Regions from separate parts of the Homo sapiens genome. Here region 2 is linked to region 1. The links come from fine-mapping of genetic effects on gene expression. A gene starts in region 1. The other region holds a variant in brackets. All regions are shown on one strand. Distances are between the middles of the regions.

Evidence for each region. PIP is the estimated chance that this variant, and not a neighbour inherited with it, causes the effect.
Region 2: its variant is the best candidate, but not a certain one, in a credible set for the expression of NELFB in naive CD8 T cells (Schmiedel 2018, PIP 0.56).

The regions. Positions count from the first base shown.
Region 1 is chr9:137,252,474-137,257,688 of GRCh38, reverse strand. It overlaps NELFB (negative elongation factor complex member B), which reads right to left and starts at 2,362. Exons shown (of 13, transcript NM_015456.5): 1 at 2,078-2,362; 2 at 1,619-1,782; 3 at 1,261-1,360; 4 at 635-865. The coding sequence starts at 2,323. STPG3 (sperm-tail PG-rich repeat containing 3) reads right to left here. Exons shown (of 6, transcript NM_001004353.4): 4 at 5,164-5,215; 5 at 4,724-5,027; 6 at 4,206-4,574. The coding sequence ends at 4,444. STPG3-AS1 (STPG3 antisense RNA 1) reads left to right here and starts at 4,192. Exons shown (of 4, transcript NR_038389.1): 1 at 4,192-4,526; 2 at 4,714-4,814; 3 at 5,183-5,215. It also overlaps a transcript of CIMIP2A not described here. RefSeq lists enhancers at 1,059-2,006, 2,007-2,954 and silencers at 1,965-2,024, 2,065-2,244, 2,255-2,624, 2,815-2,994.
Region 2 is chr9:137,918,905-137,924,119 of GRCh38, reverse strand. All of the region lies in intron 6 of CACNA1B (calcium voltage-gated channel subunit alpha1 B), which reads right to left. Among named protein-coding and RNA genes, the nearest start is that of CACNA1B-AS1, 26 kb to the left of the region's middle. The variant A/G (reference allele first, on the strand shown) is at 1,980.

The DNA of each region.
Region 1 (5,215 bases):
CTCTACTAAAAATACAAAATTAGCCGGGCGTGGTGATGCATGCCTGTAATCCCAGCTACTCGGGAGGCTGAGGCAGGAGAATTGCTTGAACCTGGGAGGCGGAGGTCGCAGTGAGCCGAGATCACGCCATTGCACTCCAGCCTGGGCAACAATAGCGAAACTCCGTCTCAAAAAAAAAAAAAAAGAAAAAGAAAAAAAATTAGCCAGGCATGGTGGCGGGCGCCTGTAGTCCCAGCTACTCGGGAGACTGAGGCAGGAGAATGGAGTGAACCCGGGAGCTTGCAGTGAGCCGAGATCACACCACTGCACTCCAGCCTGGGCAACAGAGCGAGACTCCGTCTCAAAGAAAAAGAAAAAAAGTAGGGGAGGGGGGATTAACTTCACATGAGCGGGCTTTCCGCAGATTTTAAATGTTGTCCATATATCACTTTAACGAAAAGTAAAATGCAAACAGAAAAACAACCAACTTTCTTTCCAGCATGTGTACAAGCCAGCCCTCCCCCACCACCCAGCCAAGAAGCAGAACCACCCGATCATTCACAGGGCAGCAGAGTGCTGATCCCCAGGCAGCTGAAGGCGCTAGCCGTGGCATCCCCAAGAGGTGCCCCACCCCGCACACGGCCTGTCCCCTCACCTCGCCCTGGCGCCTGGTCTTGGGGGAAGGACTGAAAAAGTTGTGCAGGACAGAGAGCTCTGTACTGAAGAGAGCGCTCTCCTTCTCCAGGATGTACTGCTTCAGGAGTGGGGAAACCTCGTCCCCGAAGAGGGCCTGGTTGTCTTGCCAGATCTGCCGCTTCACCTCCACGGCGCAGGCTCGATACAGCTCCTTGTCAGCCATAACCAGCTTCAGTTTTTTCTCCGGAACCTACATGACACCACAGGCTGCCTGTGAGTGGCACCTGTGTCCCTGGGTCTCCTTCAAGACAAGCCAAGAGGCCTCAGCCCCGCAGAGACCACCTCGAGCTAAGCTCCACCCCACAGGGCACCTATGACTGGTTCCCCGGCCCCAGCATGTCAGACAGACATGCTAAATACCAACAGCTCTTTCCCAGGAGGGGCCCCACACCCTAACTCCAGTGCTAAGGTTCGGTCTCCACGCGGCTCATGTGGGAGAAGTCAGCACAGAGCTCACCATGGACAGCACTTGGGCAGGCAGCACAGGAAGCTCCCGGAGCTAGGCGGCCACCGGAACTTCCACTAACCAAGGGCATGAGAGTGGGCGGACGGTCCACGCCATCAGGGTTAGGGTTAGGGCCCTACCTTGGGCAGGTGCTTCATGACGCACATCACCACGGGCTGCAGGGACGGCATCTTCACCAGAGAAAAGCTCTTCTCCAGAAGGTCTTCCAGCTTCTTGTACCTGGAACAACTCACAGGATTGATGGTGCAGCGATGCGCCAAATCGCAGCAGCTACCTGCCTGTCCCTACACAGATAACAGCTACCAGGACAAGCCTCCACGCCCAGGACACATGGGTCAAGGGGTCACTCAGACACAGGCCCAGGCCACCTCTGGGAGCAAGGATGTGGAGCCAAAAGGACAATAAATGCCCCTGAGTCGATCCAAGGCTGAGAGGCCGGCTGCACATCTCACCTGCCCACCCCTCCCGCTGACCCACCTTTCCTCAGCCTTCCCCTCCGAAGCGATGGCTGACACTCGCTCCAGCAGCTTGTCCCGCAGCTCATCGAATACCGACTGGTGGAACTCCAGCCGCGGCGTCCCGTGCAGGTCCAAGAAGGGGAGGGCTGACTGAAGAGATGGCAGCAGCACACCATTCTCTGTCTGAGGAAGCCAAGAGAAACCTCAAACGCAGCCCAGTGCGCCCGGGCACCCCGAGGTCCTGAGAGCACAGGGAGGCACGCACCCAGGTGTTCCCAGCCGTGCTGGCGGTAACCGCAGCCACCGAAAGCCACCCAGCCGTCCAGCAAAGGGGTGCTGGCTCCGGACTCCACCCCCAGAACAGGACTCAGCCACCAGCAGAAAGCCGGAAAACTTCCGGCGCCTCCGCCAGGCCCGACTCCCGAGCAGGCGGCCCGGCCCTCCAACTGGGCTCCCCCCGCCCCGGGGGCCGCCCCACCTGGAACTGCTCGATGGCCTTGAGCGGCTCCGTGCAGTTGGTCAGGGTCTCCTTCAGGTCCTCGCCGTTGGCCACGCCCAGGTCCTGCAGCCCCGCGAACATGGCCGAGGCCCCGGCCACCGCCCGGCTAGGCGCCCCATCCCCAGCCCGTTCCCCCGGCGCCGCCGCAGACACCCCAGAAGCCCGCTCCGCCGGGCCTCGGGGACCGCCCGAGCCCCGCTCCCCGGCGCCCTCCAGCTCGGCCAGGTCCCGCCCGCCGCGCGACTCCGCGCGCGTCCCGCAGCCGCCCACTTCCGCCCCGCACCGCCCAGGTCCGCCCGCCAACCGGCCCCCGGGAAACGCCGCCGGGGCCGCGCGCAGGTTCCTGGGAGCAGCGCCCTCACCCGGCGCGAGAGACCCCGCCCAGCCAGCCCAGCGCGCATGCGCCCACCCGGTCCCGCCCGCGCCCGGGCTTTCTGGCAGAAGAGGGCGGGTGAGGGCGTGGGGGGCGGACTCAGGGTCCGTCTGCTCCGGGAACGGACGTCGTCGCAGCCGAGTGAATTTCGTGTACATAAGCGTGGAAAACGCTCTTGCAGATCTCGCGGCAGCCACGCGCAGCGGGGACGTTTTGCCGGGGGTTGAGCTCCCCGCCCCTCTGCCCCGCAGGGGCCGGACACAGGCGCAGACTCCCTCCTGAGCGTGGGTTCCTCCGCGTGAAACGGGCACGAAGCCCACCCCGGCGCTGTCGCCAAAACTGAGATCTGAGCGCCTTCAGGGGGCCGGGGCCTGGCGGAGACCGGGCCCGCAGCGGGAGCGCGAGCGACGGCCGCCCTCCCAGGCACCGGGAGGCTGTGGCGCCCACCGAGCTCCGCGGAGCCGTGAAGGAGAGTCCAGGTTCCACAGTGTCCCTTCTTATCCCAGGCGGGTGGGCTCCCCGGGCCTCCCCGCCTCTCCAGCCCGCCGCCCTCCCGCAGGCTGTGCCGCGCCAAGCCCCCTACACACACCCTCTCTCTTTTCGGTCTCCGCTGCTGAAATTTTCTCTAGAAATTTCTTTCCCGCTGCCCAGCAAACTCTTGCTCTTCCTTGAAGGCTTCTTCCTCCACCACCTCCTCCAGGAAGCCCTCCCTCCTCAGCCCAGCTGGAGGAGATCGCTCCATCTTTCCTGCCGCTCCCACTCCTAGCTTTGGGTCTCACCAGGGGTGCCTGGTGGTGCAGCCGTGAGCAGAGCTCCTGTTCCCACAAGCCGGGCCGAGCTCCCAAGGCCATGGCTACCACAGCTCTCTTGCCGCTGGCCAAGTTGGTCAGCCCTAGGGCGAGGGTTCCAGTGCCTTGATCCAACCCCCAGCTGGTTCGGTGGCAGAGGAGGACAAGGGTCACAGCACACACACAATCCTGAGCCTGGGATTCCTCTCTGAGAAAGGGGGTGGTGCTGAGGCCACAGAAGCAGCTGCCCAGAGCCTTTTTGAAGGGGTTGAGCTCTGGGCCTGGTCTGGGTCCTGGGTCTGGGGAGGACCTGGGGAGGTGCGGGTGACGGCACCGCAGGTAAGGCTCCTGCAAGGTGGCAGCCTTGGGGCCCGACCCTGGGTAGGAGGGCAGGCCAGTGATGACAAGGGAGGCCCCAGCCAGGCGAAGTTGCAGGCAGGGGCAGTGCAGGGTCCCAGCAGGTGAAGGCCCCGGGAGTGGAGTCTGCAGGGCCCTGGGCCAGAGTGTTCAGGGCACAGGTGACTAAGCCCAGCCAGGTCTTCAGCTCAAGGCCTAGGGGAAGTGGGGCTGGGCCCTGGTGAGCAGATCCCTGGGCCCTTCCTGAGGTCTGGCCAGGCCGACCCCACCTGGAGGTGGCGGCTCAGGGCATTTGACGCCTCCTTCCCAGTTCCCTGGCTCGGCAAGCAGCTGACCCTCAGGTGGACAGCAGCTAGACCAGGCCCCTGAGTGACACGGCTGGGTGGGGGTGTCCCACAGAGCCCACCTCCCATCTCGCTCCAGGCTAGAGCTCAGGGTCAGTCACAGGCTGCCACCCTAGAGAAGAGAGCACCTTTCAGGGGCAGCTGAATGGAGACCCCTCAACAGGGAAAGCCGGAAATGACCCAGCGGCAGCCATATCTCTAGGACCGCCCCCGGGTGAAGGACAGACAACTGCACACCACAGAGCTCGGGAAAACCAACAGCATCTCAGTGTAGCGGGGAGATGGGCAGATGGGGGATCCAGGCTGGGCCAGCCTTGTCCACAGCCCATAGAAGGGTTGGCCAGCCAGAAGGGTGCATCGGGGTGCCCAGAGGGTCAGAAGGCCAGGCTGGGGCCCCAAGTCCCAGGGGAGGCCTGGGAAAGCCCCGGGGGAGGCCATGGTTCCACTCGGTGGCCGGGCCAAGCAGGTTGTGCCCAGCTGGCTCTAGAGCGTGCAGAAGGGGCCTGTGTCGTGGCGCTTGGGTCTGCGTACACCCTGGATGACCACGCCAGGCGCCGAAGGGAAGCGTGAGTTGCAGTCCTCCACGTGGTAGGCGGCTGGGCCAGGGGTTCGGGCTGCCGAAAGAGAAGGCTGGGAGCCCCACCCAGGTAGCAGCCCCAACTCAAACCTGGCTCCCAGTTCCCACCCCCGGCCCCTGAACCCTTGTCCTCACATTGCCCACCCATGCCCCATCCCTAGCCCTCTTCTCTCCAGGCCTCCTTACAGGTGCTGAGCCAGGAGGTGAACGCAGGGGAGCGGCTCATCGAGAAGGCCGGCGAGCGGGGGCTCTGCAGGCGGCTCCCAGGAAGGATATTGTAGGTGTTGGGGCCAGGGCATCTCTTGCCAGGTGCCTGCAAAGAGGCCTGAAGCAGGGACTGGGGCTGCACCCTGAGGCCCAGCCCCCTAGCCCCAGGCAGCCCTAGGTGGGTGTGGCCTTCAGGTGTCTTGGAAGCGGAGTGGCAGCCTCTGAAGCTGAAGGCGGGGAAGGCGGGCCGGCTGAGCAGCTGGTAGTGGGCTGGCGAGGGCCACTGCGAGGGGGTAGGAGACGGGCTGCAGGGCAGGGTGCTCCCCACGGACCCTCAGCCAGCCCCCCTTTGGCCCCACTGGAACCCCCAGCCCCCTGCCTGCGTGGACTCCCCGCCCCCTTCCTGCCCAGCCCCCAACCTTTTGCTCTTGGTCGAAGTCAGCTTTCTGCGTGAAGGGGCTTTCGCTCTGG
Region 2 (5,215 bases), 670 kb before region 1:
GACTCGATCAAATTTTAAAAACATTTGTTCCATGAAAGACCAGGTGAAAAGTATGAAAAGATAAGCTACTGACTAGGAGAAAATATTTGCAAACCATATATATGACAAAGAACCAGTTCCTAGAATATATAAAGAACAATTCAAACAGAACATGGGCAAAAGATGTGAAGAGACGTTTCACCAAAGATACACAGATGGCAAATAAGTCCAGAAAGATGCTCAACACCACTCACTGTTAGGACATGCGAATTAAAACCAGTGATGTGTCACTATACCCCTATCAGAATGGCTAAAATAAAAAAGTGTCACCACCAAACACTGGCCAGAATGCACAAAAACTGAACTATTCACACACCACTGGTGGAAATGTAAAAGAGTGTAGCCCTCTGGAAAAGCTTTGGTTTCTTAAAAAACTAAGCATGCAACTACTATACCTAGAAATTTGCACTCTTTGGCATTTATCCCAGAGAAATGAAAACTTATGTTTGCACAAAAATGTGTACAGCAACTCTATTCATAATAACCCCAAATTGGAAGCTTCCACAGGTGAACGGTTAAACAAGCCATGGTACAGCCATAGCACGGAATACTACCTGGCACCACGGAATACCACCTGGCACCAGGGAATACCACCTGGCACCACGGAATACTACCTGGCACCACGGAATACCACCTGGAGCCACGGAATACCACCTGGAGCCATGGAATACTACCTGGCACCACGGAATACCACCTGGTGCCACGGAATACCACCTGGAGCCACGGAATACTACCTGGCACCACGGAATACCACCTGGAGCCACGGAATACTACCTGGCACCATGGAATACCACCTGGCACCATGGAATACCACCTGGCACCACGGAATACCACCTGGCACCATGGAATACCACCTGGCACCACGGAATACCACCTGGCACCACGGAATACCACCTGGCACCACGGAATACTACCTGGCACCACAAATTGACACCTGGCACCACTCAATACTACCTGGCAGTAAAAGGAAACATGCTACCAACACCTGGGTGAACCTCCAGAGAATTTTGTTTGAGTGAAAGCAGCCAGTACCAAAAGGTTACATTTGGTGTGGTTTTGTCCACGTAACATTCTCAAAATGACTAAATTATAGATATGGCAAACAGATTAGTGGTTGCCGGGGATTAAGGAGGGGGCGAGGGCAGGAGAGATGCGGGTGTGACCACAAAAGGGCAGCAGGAGGGACCCCTGCAGGGATGGAGATGCTCTACGTCTTCACTGTGTCAACATCATTGATACTGATGTATCAACATCAATATCCTAACTGTGACCCTGACTATAGTTTTGCAGGTTGTCACCACTGGGAGAAAAGGGTAAAGGATGCATGAGCTATTTCTGTATTTCTCACTACTGCATGTGAATCTACAATTATCTTAAATTAAAAGTTTAATTTTTTAAAAGCCCATTCCCTTAACCCCTGTCTCCCTGCAGTTACTTCCCACTGCTCTGCTCCCTCCAAGAGTCATCTGCGGTTGCCACCCTGATTTCCTCACCTCCTCCTCCCTGTAACCCACGCATTCCAGGGCGTTGTCCCACCACTGAGACCGCCCTTGCCAAGTTTACCAACAACCTTCCTCTTATCAAACGCAACAGTCCGGGCTTCCCATCTTCCTTGACCTCCAGCAACATCTGGCCCAGCTGATCATGTTCTCCGAACGCTTTACTCTGCTCCCAGGATGCTGTGTGGTGTGGTGTTGATCATGTTCTCCGAACGCTTTACTCTGCTCCCAGGATGCTGTGTGATCGCGGTGCTGATCATGTTCTCCGAGCACTTTATTCTGCTCCCAGGATGCTGTGCGGTCGTGGTGCTGATCATGTTCTCCGAACGCTTTACTCTGCTCCCAGGATGCTTTGCGGTCGTGGTGCTGATCATGTTCTCCGAACGCTTTACTCTGCTCCCAGGATGCTGTGCGGTGTGGTGTTGATCATGTTCTCCGAGC[A/G]CTTTACTCTGCTCCCAGGATGCTGTGTGATCGCGGTGCTGATCATGTTCTCCGAACGCTTTACTCTGCTCCCAGGATGCTGTGCGGTCGTGGTGCTGATCATGTTCTCCGAATGCTTTATTCTGCTCCCAGGATGCTGTGCGGTCGCGGTGCTGATCGTGTTCTCCGAACACTTTACTCTGCTCCCAGGATGCTGTGCGGTCGTGGTGCTGACCATGTTCTCCGAACGCTTTACTCTGCTCCCAGGATGCTGCGCGGCTGCAGTGCTGATCATGTTCTCCAAACACTTTACTCTGCTCCCAGGATGCTGTGCGGTCGTGGTGCTGATCGTGTTCTCCGAACGCTTTACTCTGCTCCCAGGACGCTGTGTGATCGCGGTACTGATCGTGTTCTCCGAACGCTTTACTCTGCTCCCAGGATGCTGTGCGGTCGTGGTGCTGATCGTGTTCTCCGAACGCTTTACTCTGCTCCCAGGATGCTGTGCGGTCGTGGTGCTGATCAGGTTCTCCGAACGCTTTACTCTGCTCCCAGGATGCTGTGCGGTCGTGGTGTTGATCATGTTCTCCGAACGCTTTACTCTGCTCCCAGGATGCTGTGCGGTCACGGTGCTGATGGTGTTCTCCGAACGCTTTACTCTGCTCCCAGGATGCTGCGCGGCTGCAGTGCTGATCATGTTCTCCGAACACTTTACTCTGCTCCCAGGATGCTGTGCGGTCGTGGTGCTGACCATGTTCTCCGAACGCTTTACTCTGCTCCCAGGATGCTGCGCGGCCGTGGTGCTGACCATGTTCTCCGAACGCTTTACTCTGCTCCCAGGATGCTGCGCGGCCGTGGTGCTGACCATGTTCTCCGAACGCTTTACTCTGCTCCCGGGATGCTGTGTGGTCGTGGTGTTTTTCCTGCCCCCTTAAAAGCTCCAGCCCCATCTCTTTCGTGGCTCCTGCTTTCCTACTGGACCTCTGAGTGCTGGAATTCTCCCCAGTATCAGCCTTGGGCCTTCTTTTCTCCATCTGCACTTATTACCCAGGTGATCTCATCCTCTCACATAGTTTTAAACACTGTCCATGAGTCAAGTACTTCAAATGCTCATCAGCCTGCTGTTCCCTCTGAATTCCCTCTCAAACACCCACCTACACACCCAAGATCTCCACTTGTATGAAAATAGTTATCTAAAGTTTTGCAGAGCCAAAACAGAATCCTGGAGTTCCGCCACCACCCTCTGCTATAACAAAACTAAGTAAATTCGTGTCTCCCGATTCTCCCTTTCTTAGTAAATGGCATCACCTTTCTCAGTGCCTCAAGTCACATCATCGTTGAGACTTCTCCTTCTCTCACATCCACTCTATGAGCAAGGCCTGTTTGTGCTAGCATCAAAATGCAGCTATGGATCTGAACACTTTCAAACTTGGATCTTCACGGAACTAGTACAATGAACATAAGCAAAGCATACGTGCATAATCATAAAGCAACATGATTTACCTCCACTGCGCCTCCAAACATGGTCATTGGAGAAATCCTTCCCATGCCCCTAGATGATAATTTGGACAAGCCCATGACCATTCTGACAGCTCCTGGGTAAGGCGAAGTTCTACAGCCACTTTCAAGTGGAAAATACAGTTTCAACTCGGCAGTTGAAAGTGTTCAGGCCAGGTGTGGTGGCTCATGCCTGTCATCCCAGCACTTTGGGAGGCTGAGGCAGGTAGATCACTTGAGGTCAGGAGTTCAAGACCAGCCTGGCCAACATGGCGAAACCCTGTCTCCACTAAAAATACAAAAATTAGCTGGATGGGGTGGCTCGTGCCTGTAATCCCAGCTACTTAGGAGGCTGAGGCATGAGAATCACTTGAACCAAGGAGGCAGAGGTTGCAGTGAGCCAAAATCGTGCCATCGCATTCCAGCATGGGAGACAAAGCAAGACTCTGTCTCAAAAAAAAAAGAAAGTGTCCAGTCTCAGTCTCAGCTGGCCATCAAACTGACATGCTTCACCATGACAATACCCACTCTCGCTGGCTGGCCTGCCACAGCTGGTTGCTTTCAGTGGAAGAGAAAGACACGGCCCCTCTTTGCTCCCCTGTACCCAGCACTATCACAGCAGGGGAGGGAGAAGGGACAGCTGTTATTCCTCGTGCGGTGCTGTCCTGAGATGATCTCACCTCTCTGGACCTAACAGGAATTTACTGCCGACTCGTCTCTCCCCAGGCTCATCCGTGTGTTCTCCCAAAGCTCCATTTGACTCCGCCTGCTTTTCCAGGCACAGACAAAGCCATTTCTCCTCAAGCTGGAGTGCCCCCACGCTGCCCCACCCGCTGCCACCAGCTTTTCAGCAATCCACTCTGAGACCCCATCACTCACCCGGTCCTGGCTGCCCGCTGTTGCTCACACCCCCACTCCTGCTCCCAACACGGACTGAGCTTTCCATCTCTCTGCCTCCACCCCTACTGCAGGCCGTGGGCTTCCGCCCACAAAGAACCCAGATGTCATTGCTTGAAGGAGCGTATATCCGAGGGGCCACAAAAGTCCCTCTCACTGGGTTGGAGGTGAGGGGCGGGCTCTCGCTCTCTCCAAAGGATCCTCTTCAAAACTCCTGTCTAATCTCCAGTGACCGACCCTGTATGCCCTTAGTGTGGAGGAGCGGACTGGTCGGTTCTTGGCTACCTGCTCTGGGGCCTTGTGTGGCGCCAGCCCCAGGCACTGCCATGACTGCATCTTGCTGCCCCGGCCAAGCTTCCAAGGTGTTGTAGCATCTGCATGTCTGGTTTCTAGACCTCACCAGGCCTTGCCCTCCCAGTACCCTGTACCTCGTCACTGCCTGCTCCTCAACCTCTTCTGTTTTCTTCACGGCACTCGCCACTGTCCATGCCCTTACGTGTCGAATGCCTCTGCTCACCACTGTGTAAGCGGAGCCAGCACTCACTGGGTCCTACTGAAACACATGCTGGCTGAAACCTCTGTGGCCCCTCCTGGCCAGTGCTGCCTGCCCCAGGATGGGGCTCCTGCCCATCCCCTCCTGCGGGAGGCAGAGACCCAGGCAGAAGAATCTGAGTCATGTGCGGCCCCTGGCCAAGCCCCAGTGGACACTGAGGGCTGTGGAGACCTGGTCACACAGTCCTTCATTTGGGTGGGGCCAGCAGGAATGCAGCCAGCTCAGAGCTATTTTTAGGGTCTGTCTTTGTGGGAATTGTTCCTTGATTGGCTACAGAGAGAGAACAGCCAAGCTCCTCATCACCGGCTTTGTC